2 separate regions of the Homo sapiens genome follow, and region 2 is reported to be linked to region 1. Evidence: microRNA targets listed by miRTarBase, many of them from high-throughput screens and not tested one by one. Region 1 holds a microRNA gene; the other region holds the end of a gene's coding sequence. Distances are between the middles of the regions.

The links. The annotated mature microRNA hsa-miR-7158-3p reads CUGAACUAGAGAUUGGGCCCA and lies in region 1 at 1,515-1,535, opposite strand. An mRNA with a match to its seed (bases 2 to 7 or 8) in the 3' UTR can be bound and repressed. Matches are read on the target gene's strand: a 7mer-m8 pairs with bases 2 to 8, a 7mer-A1 pairs with bases 2 to 7 and ends in A, and an 8mer does both.
Region 2: the mRNA of SLC30A6 is a reported target of hsa-miR-7158-3p. Seed matches in the 3' UTR shown: 7mer-A1 at 2,906-2,912 and 7mer-A1 at 897-903.

What each region holds. Positions count from the first base shown.
Region 1 is chr2:5,971,964-5,976,246 of GRCh38, reverse strand. MIR7158 (microRNA 7158) reads right to left here and starts at 1,585; the gene lies at 1,515-1,585. It overlaps SILC1 (sciatic injury induced lincRNA upregulator of SOX11), which reads right to left. Exons shown (of 2, transcript NR_026832.1): 2 at 1-4,283. RefSeq lists enhancers at 1-637, 1,517-2,018.
Region 2 is chr2:32,220,166-32,224,165 of GRCh38, reverse strand. It overlaps SLC30A6 (solute carrier family 30 member 6), which reads right to left. Exons shown (of 14, transcript NM_017964.5): 14 at 1-3,953. The coding sequence ends at 3,453. Among named protein-coding and RNA genes, the nearest start is that of NLRC4, 43 kb to the left of the region's middle.

The DNA of each region.
Region 1 (4,283 bases):
CATGTGTACTGTGAACCTACCCAGAACCAGGCACTTTGCTAAGGCATTGAGATTCAAGGTCAAGGGAGGCACAGTCCCCATGGACCTTGCAGCCGGGGACACAGCTAATGGACAGGAGACATTCATAGTCCAACTCACTTGCTTTATTTCAGTGACTTTATTTTCCATTTTGTTATTACCTTCTTTTTCAAGTCTCCTGTTGGAATTTGGATTATGTTACTTTATTTTTTCCTTTAAAATGCTTTTTGAATGATCAAAGGCCCATTTTAATCCCTCTATTGTCTGCAGCTCCTTAGAGGTGAATTCTCCTTTTACAGAGTCTGTTTGCCCTCAAGGTGATGAGTCTCCACAGGTGCTGGGGGCACACCTTCCTTAGGAATCATTCTCCCATGGAGTCTCAGAAATGCCTTGAGCTCTGCAGGCATCTTCACTGGAGCAATGATTTTTATGCTGGGCTTGAGACTTTTGGGTTGCAAGCTGTTCCACATCAGCTTTTACCTTAAATTCTTGCTCAGATTTTCCAAACAGCAAAGACAGTGTGAATGGAGGCCCCTTACACCAGCCACAGTTGGCGTTCTGACTCCTCTGTGTGACTCCTATCCCACACCAGGCCCAGTCCCAGCATTAGCTTTTGTGATGCATTCCTTGGTACAGAAGGCTAAGCATCGCTAATTTCTATTCAGAGACACAGGGACTCTACCCTTGTTCCTGGCTTTATAAAGCTGCTCAGTTCTAATGTGCACTGCACACAACAGCTGCCAGGGCCACAAACACCCCCAAGCAGACGTTAGGCTCTCAACCCCTAAGATACAGTTTTCCTCTCAATAGCTCATAAGACTCTGCCCTCTGACGTGAGAAAATAGAATTCTGTTGTGCTTTTTAAGTATGCCTATGGCATCTTTTAAAATATACCATATATGATCCAGTATTTCTTTGTGTTTGGAGTGTGAATCTGCAGGTGAAAGAGTGTGTTCTACACGTGCCCGATCCATCCTCATTACACAAATTCACCCTCTACTTTAAAACAGGGAATTTGGGCCTTTGACAGGAAAGAAGCCGGACAGTCATGGGGCCAAACTGGAATCAAATGTAAATATTTAATTTCCTCCTGTTAAAAGCAGAGTGGACCCACAGTCCCTCCCAAAGTAAAATGCACAATAATGTGTCAAGAGCCCTGGACTTATTGCTTCTCGGACGTTAGCAAAGATCAAGCGCAGACCACTGGCTTTGGGGTCTGATACCCCAGGAGAGTCCCGGTTTCGTGCTCATGTGTTATGTGACCCTTGACCCCTCGTTCAATTCTCACGTGCTTCACTCTCCTAAGCCATGCAAAAGGGACATAAGGATATCTCCTGAAAGCAGAGTCGGCTGGAAGGCTGGAAGGCTTATGTGAAGCAGTTGCATATCACTTAGCACTTAGAATGGGCAAATAAAAAATGGTTTAGCTTCTCCTTTGTGGGAACAGAGACTGGGATGGTTTGTATCCTGGCTCTCCTGAAACTGCGCTGCCGAGCTGGGCCCAATCTCTAGTTCAGCTCGCTTCAGAAAGCCAAAGGCAGAAGGCTGCAGGACCAGAGATTGAGCCTGGCCACACAGCCCCTTCTTCCTGATGCCACATGGCTGGTGATCCTGGTCACAGCCTGCCTGAGCTGGTGGAACACAGCTTTGTCGGACTGTTGAAGATAACCCTACAGAAAAATCACCTGGTGAAGGGCAAATGCGCATGTTTTGTCATAAGACCAACTGGGTTTCCTAAATCAGCCAAGCCGTTTATCCTGTGGTCTTGGCAACAGGCTGACCTTCCTTTTACAGAGGAGATGGTGATGCCTGGTCCCAGAGGAGCGCTGTGAGCACCCAGGCATGGATTACAGTGCTTAGCACAAAGTAACATTAAATGTGAATCTCTCTTCTAAAACTATGTTACAAAAAGCAGTAATTCATTCCAAGCAAGACTGTCAGTTTAGGTGAATCAAGTAATCATAATTTCTCTAAAACCTTTTTTCTACTGTAAAAGCTTTAATTTTTGTCTTTATTTTTATTGATACATCTTAGATGTGCATATTTTGGGAGTACATATGATAATTCAACACATTCATATAATCAAATCAGCATAATTGGGATATTTGTCACCTTAAATATTGATCTTTTCTTGATGCTATGAGCATTAGGTTAATGGGTACAAATGTACAGTTAGATAAAAAGAATAAGACCTGGTCTTCAATACATCATGGTGGCTATAGTTAACATTAACCATTGTACATTTCAAAATGCTAGAAGAGAATAATTCCAACACGTTTTTTGTTTGCTTACTTTTTTCTGAATTCTAATAGACTGATACATCAGTCCCTGCTGTAGCGAAAATAATGACTTCCTCAAAATGCACTTCAAGAATGTGACCTCAATGGATGTAACAGAAAGAACCTGCTCTTGGTGTTTGGGAAAGAAAAGGTGTTAGGCCCGCCACAATTCCTTCTCCTCCCAGGTGATTCAGAGTCCTGGAGGACAGAATACCTTGGGAACTTGAGTGAACTCCTTTCACCAGCCCAGCCTTGACTCAGATTCCAGCTCATATAGCTCACAAGCTCCACTGCCCAGGCCAAACCCCTCAAATGCTTAGGTTTTGTTTGTTTATTTGAAAGAGTTTTGCTCTTGTTGCCCAGGCTGGAGTGCAATGGCGCAATCTTGGCTCACTGCAACCTCCGCCTCCTGGGTTCAAGCGATTCTCCTGCATTAGCCTCCCGGGTAGCTGAGATTACAAGTACCCACCACCACGCCCGGCTAATTTTTTGTGTGTTTTTAGTAGAGACGGGGTCTCACCATGGTGGCCAGGCTGGTCTCAAACTCCTGACCTCAGGTGATCCGCCTGCCTCGGCCTCCCAAAGTGTTGGGATTACAGGCGTGAGCCACCACGCTCGGTCTAATGGTCAGGTTTTTATTCCTGTATATGTCAAGTAAGGACAATAAGAATTACTTCAAAGTGTTGTTAGGAGCTAATGCATGTAAAGCATTTATAAGAATTTTTGGCACCCAGCAGATGCTCAGAAACTTTTAGCTCATAATATTAGCATTGCTATAAAAATAACATTAATAAAAACCAACAACATTACTACCGTGAGAAAGTCATAATAATATACATCAAAGGATATTAATAATATACAATGACTTTCCCATATGCCATTTGTATGGCCAGAAAGCCAGACACAACTCCTGACTTCCTCCTGCGATTCAGACGACATTGCTTGGATGCAAACTTACCTGAAAGAACCACTTAATAGGTTTGTCACTCTAAGCAAATACTAGTGTTCAAGAAATGTTCTCAGGTGATCTAAAACACAGTCCAGAATACCTGCTTATGGCTTTTCAAATGTTTGCAATACAAGGCCTGCCTCTGTGCTCAGCTCCCAGAGAGAATTTTTCTAATAGATGCAGTTTTTCCTATTAGCAATGGAACATACACATTTGAAACCCAGCTGGCAGCCTCTATGATTGTAGGCTAAATCTCGTAAACAAAACTTAAATGTAAAGAAGTGTTTGTACTAGCTGCAAATGGGCTACTGGTTTGATGCCACAGGGGAAGTTGTTAGCAGGTGACATCAGAGGATGGATTAGTTAGGGTAACATTGTGAACCGAGAGACAGGAGAGATCTTGTCACTCACTGAAGGCGAGACTCTTCTAGAGAGTTGTTTTCTCCCCAAGATCTGCGCCTTTCCCCAGACTGAGTCAGGATCTCCGAGGTTAGGACCTAGCTACGTATATTTTGCACAAAGAACTCTGATTTGGACTCCAGGATTTAGAACCACAAATGTGCATACAGACCCAATTTTGTACATGGGAGGTGAGGTCAGATAGATAAAGTAACTTGCCAGCAGTCACTCATCTCACTAGTGTCACAGCTAGAATTAGAACCTATGGACTTTTGGTCCCTGGTTTGCAGCAGTTTCTGTAACACTAGTGGATATGAAACAACATGAAACACAAAGAACTGAGTCCTCGGAGGTGTGCAGCCCAGCAAAACTGAGCCTCTGGGTGGGAGTGGAGGGCAGCCAGAAAGAAAGGCCTGCGGTGGGTCTCTGCGTCTTAGATTTAGGAGGTAACCCCCACTGCCAGATGGTTTAGGTGATGGTGGCCGTGTGGGAGTGTGGTGATGGCTGGGGAAAATGACAAAGGCAATTCCCTTATGATAGCTGCTGAGGAGAGCAGTTGACACAACCCTGCTGCCATTTTTGACTCTTTCTTCACGAGTTGAGGATAAGGGGATATAACCGCAGCCACCAGCATGGAG
Region 2 (4,000 bases), 26 Mb from region 1:
TTCGCTGAATATGAGATAAATTATTAATAGCTACTGAATAAAGAAAGATTATTTAAAACCAGAGAGGAAACTCCATATATGTTCTTTAATCCAAACAGTTTAATTCAAGCAATCTGGAATATAAAAAGCACTTTCTGATATTAGAAGGAGATCAGACTCCCAAAAAAGATCAGCATTCTTTAGTCAAGCAAAACTTGGAAGTTTACAAACAGCTAAATCAGAAGCTTGAAATTCAGGTCCTCTCCAGTACCTGCTACATTATATGTAATTCCAAACATGACTTCAGAGATTAAAGAAGAAAGGGAAGATGTTTCCCATTCTTTTGTACCCTATATAAACTAAGGGTACCCTGCCCTAATCTTTTTTCCAACACTTCCCCAAATAACCCTTCCTTACAAAGAAAGAAGTCTAAGAGAACTCTCTCATCTAAATATATTTAAGTAGAGGCAAGCCTGAAAAAAACACAAAAACCTAAATGGTGTTAGGCTGTGGTTCACCTATTCTCATGGCACCTCAAATTAATGGCTTGGGTGTTGGTGTAGGTAACGCTTGGCCTGTATGTTGAGGTAGTCACTAGATAAAATTCTGGGCACAACATCCGTTTAGCAATTGGGCATACATTCTACAGATTTAGCCATAACGTTTTGAAGCTGATTATTTTACAGATCAACTAATTAATTCCTCTCCCTAACTTTACAGATGAGAAAGCTCAGATGATTTGCCCATGGGTTATAAAACTACTTCCTTACACAGTGGCAGCATCAGAACTGGAATTCAGATCTCTTGCCTCCTAGGCAGTGTTTTTCCTATTATAATATGGTGACTTCGTAAAGCAGGGTTAATTACATTCCACAAAGCTTACATCCTAATCACAAACAATGGGACAAATATTTAAATTGAACTTCTTTCTCTGTCTAGCTTCAAGTGATTCTGTGGCAAGATTTACTAGTAAGGCTGCTGCCTATAGGCCTATGCTGGGCAAGTTCCTTATTTTCATATCCAGAAGTTAGTCAGAGCTTGGCAAATAAGACTTCTCTATATAATAATGCCTGGCCCAATGTCCCCTGTAACATCTTACATGCAGGACGTAGGGCCAATTCTTTCATAACCCACAGGCAACTGTGAGTGTCCTTTCTCAAATAGTGAAGGTAGGTATTAAAGCACCTTTGGTGGGACAGATGCACAGGTGTTGCCTCTGAATTGGTGTTGAGGAAGTAGGCATAAAACCTCACACAGAACTGTGTTTGGTACCTGAACACTTTAAAATCCTATGGGGATGGGGAAGACATGCATGGGGTGGCAGCACATACCTCTTAACCATAACTCAGGACACGGCAGTTCAGATTTCATGCATGACCCTAATTCATATTTAGTTGAGATCAATGGAGGAAGAAGAATCATCCTGTAATAGTAGACCAATAACAGATACAGTAATAGTTGGAAAACATAAGATAAAGGCCAAGGAACAGGTTGCCTTATTACATTTTACGAAGTATCATTTTCCCCAGTAGTCAAGGTAGTGTAGGCTGTATTTCTTTAGCAGGTCACATGCCTGAACAGGGGTTGCAGATGCCAAAGACAATGACCAACTCCTCACTAAGAAAAAGGTATTTAGGACATGGTCACTTATTACCACAGATGACAATTCTGCTTGACAGAGATGGCTTCTTGGATGTTTTTAATCCACAGTGAAGAAAAAGGATTTCAAAGTGCTGCTCCTATTTGAAAGTGAATGAGTTGACTGAAGAAACTGTTGCAAAAGAAAAACAAAAATCTTCTCTAGATAGCTGGCTGATGGCTGGGAAAGTCATAAATCTCCAGGAGCATTGGATTCCAGGAAAGTTAAGTCCATTCTCAAAATCCCATTTTAAAACTGTTATGGAATGCATAATAAAATAAAACAATAAAAAACCCTCCTAGGTCATGTGTGACTGCTGCTTGTTATACTTTTTGGAAGTAATACTAGCCATGTTAGAAAGTCCTTAAACTCTGCATTTGGAAAACAACTAAAAAATAACATAATCTATGTAATTCTCACATTTCATCACAGTTAACAATTTCCCATTTTTGACAAAGCAAAACAAAAAGAAACTGCCCACTGCAGACCTAACAATGCTGTATTCTATAATCTAAGGTCCATTATGCTTTGGTAAAATTATATATGCTCAAATTCTTTGTGCAACTTGAAAAGACATCAAATTCCATATTATGTATGGAACTCCATGTGTTTTGGTAATATATCTGATATATTTTGTTAATAAAATAAGAAATTAAAAAGCCAATGAATGAAAATGTGTCAGGAAAGATAAATTCATTATGTCAGTATTTGATTAAATGTAACATAGAAAATTGGGATTCTTTCACTGCATATCACCAAAAGTTGGGTAGTCACTTAATCAAAATAAAACACTGAGAACCATGGACTATTTACAAATGTACTAAAATTTTTAAAGGAGAGAAACTTTAACAAAAATCTTGATAATTAAAAATTCAAATTGTGCTAGATAGAATGTATTCCAAAATTTCTGCTAAAAATTTTTGCTTTTAGTTTGTAAGACATAATTCAGGAGAACCTCAAAGAAAAATTTAGCAATTAAGTTTGGAAAAGCTATAAAAGAGACTTTTACTTTTTGAACAGACATTTTTCCCTTTCCCAAAATGTGTATTATTCAAGAAGCATATTTATAAATTTCATTAAAGAAAATATCGGCCAGGTGCGGTGGCTCACACCTAATCCCAGCACTTTGGGAGGCTAAGGTGGGTGGATCATGAGGTCAGGAGTTCAAGACCAGCCTGGCCAACATGGTGAAATCCCCCGTCTTTACTAAAAATACAAAAATTAGCTGGGCGTGGTGGCAGGTGCCTGTAATCCCAGCTACTCGGGAGGCTGAGGCAGGAGAATCATTTGAACTCAGGAGGCAGAGGTTGCAGTGAGCTGAGATCATGCCACTGCATTCCAGCCTGGGCGACAGAGTGAGACTCCATCTCAAAAAACAAAACAAAACAAAAACTAAGGAAGCCTTAATAAAGTACAGCCTTAAGTTAATAATAATGTATTGGCCGGGCACAGTGGCAGAGCAAGACTCCGTCTCGGAAAAAAAAAGAAATATCGTATCTTAGTAATGTGACAGATCTACTCCATCAAGTGGCTCTTATAAAGGTAAGGTCACATCACACTGCAGTCAACTACAAAACCAAAGATACCAAAATCCAAATTTAAAGAAACACATTTTCTAAAGGAAGCCTATTTAAAGCCTTTAACATTTACGAGGATTTCACTGTCACAAATACATTTTACAAAAATATAGTTTCATAGGTTTCATGAAATGTGAACAAGACTACTATTATCTAACATTTAGAGTAAATGATTAAACAGTCAATGCAAAGTTGGATTACTAAATAAATTGGAAGCCAAGGAGTCAATATTCCTTATAAAAATAAGTTAGAGTCTATCATGGTCTTGGTTGTCCAATTCTATTATTAGTTCCATATCTACTTGGTATATTTGTAAAACCAGTCCTCAATCCTTGAGTTGCTCCAATTCCTGGAACTCCAAGTCCTTGATTAAGCATGCTGCTGTAAGGTGTGTGTCCATGATTGAGACCAAAACCATAAGGCCTTGTTTGTGTGTTTAGAAGAATAACTGGGTTCACATTTTTCCCAGGAGTGTTAAATGAAAATTCTGGAGGTGGACTACTAGGTTTAGCTGGAGTTGATGTAACTGGGTTCAAATCATCAGTACCCTTTAAAAGAGGCATTGGGATTACGTGATGATCTGAAAAGTTTAGGACATTGGCTGCAACAGGCCCAGACAATAAGGCAGGCCTAATCCAGTCATCCTTGAAAATTTGAACAGTTAGAGTAGACACTAGAGTGTACAGCCTGTTGGTCACATGAGCAAGAACCATTTGTTCATTGGCATCTCGTCGAATTCTTACATGCACTGATCCAGCCTAAAAGGGGCAAAATCATAACAAAGAGATTGCTTAGAATTATACTA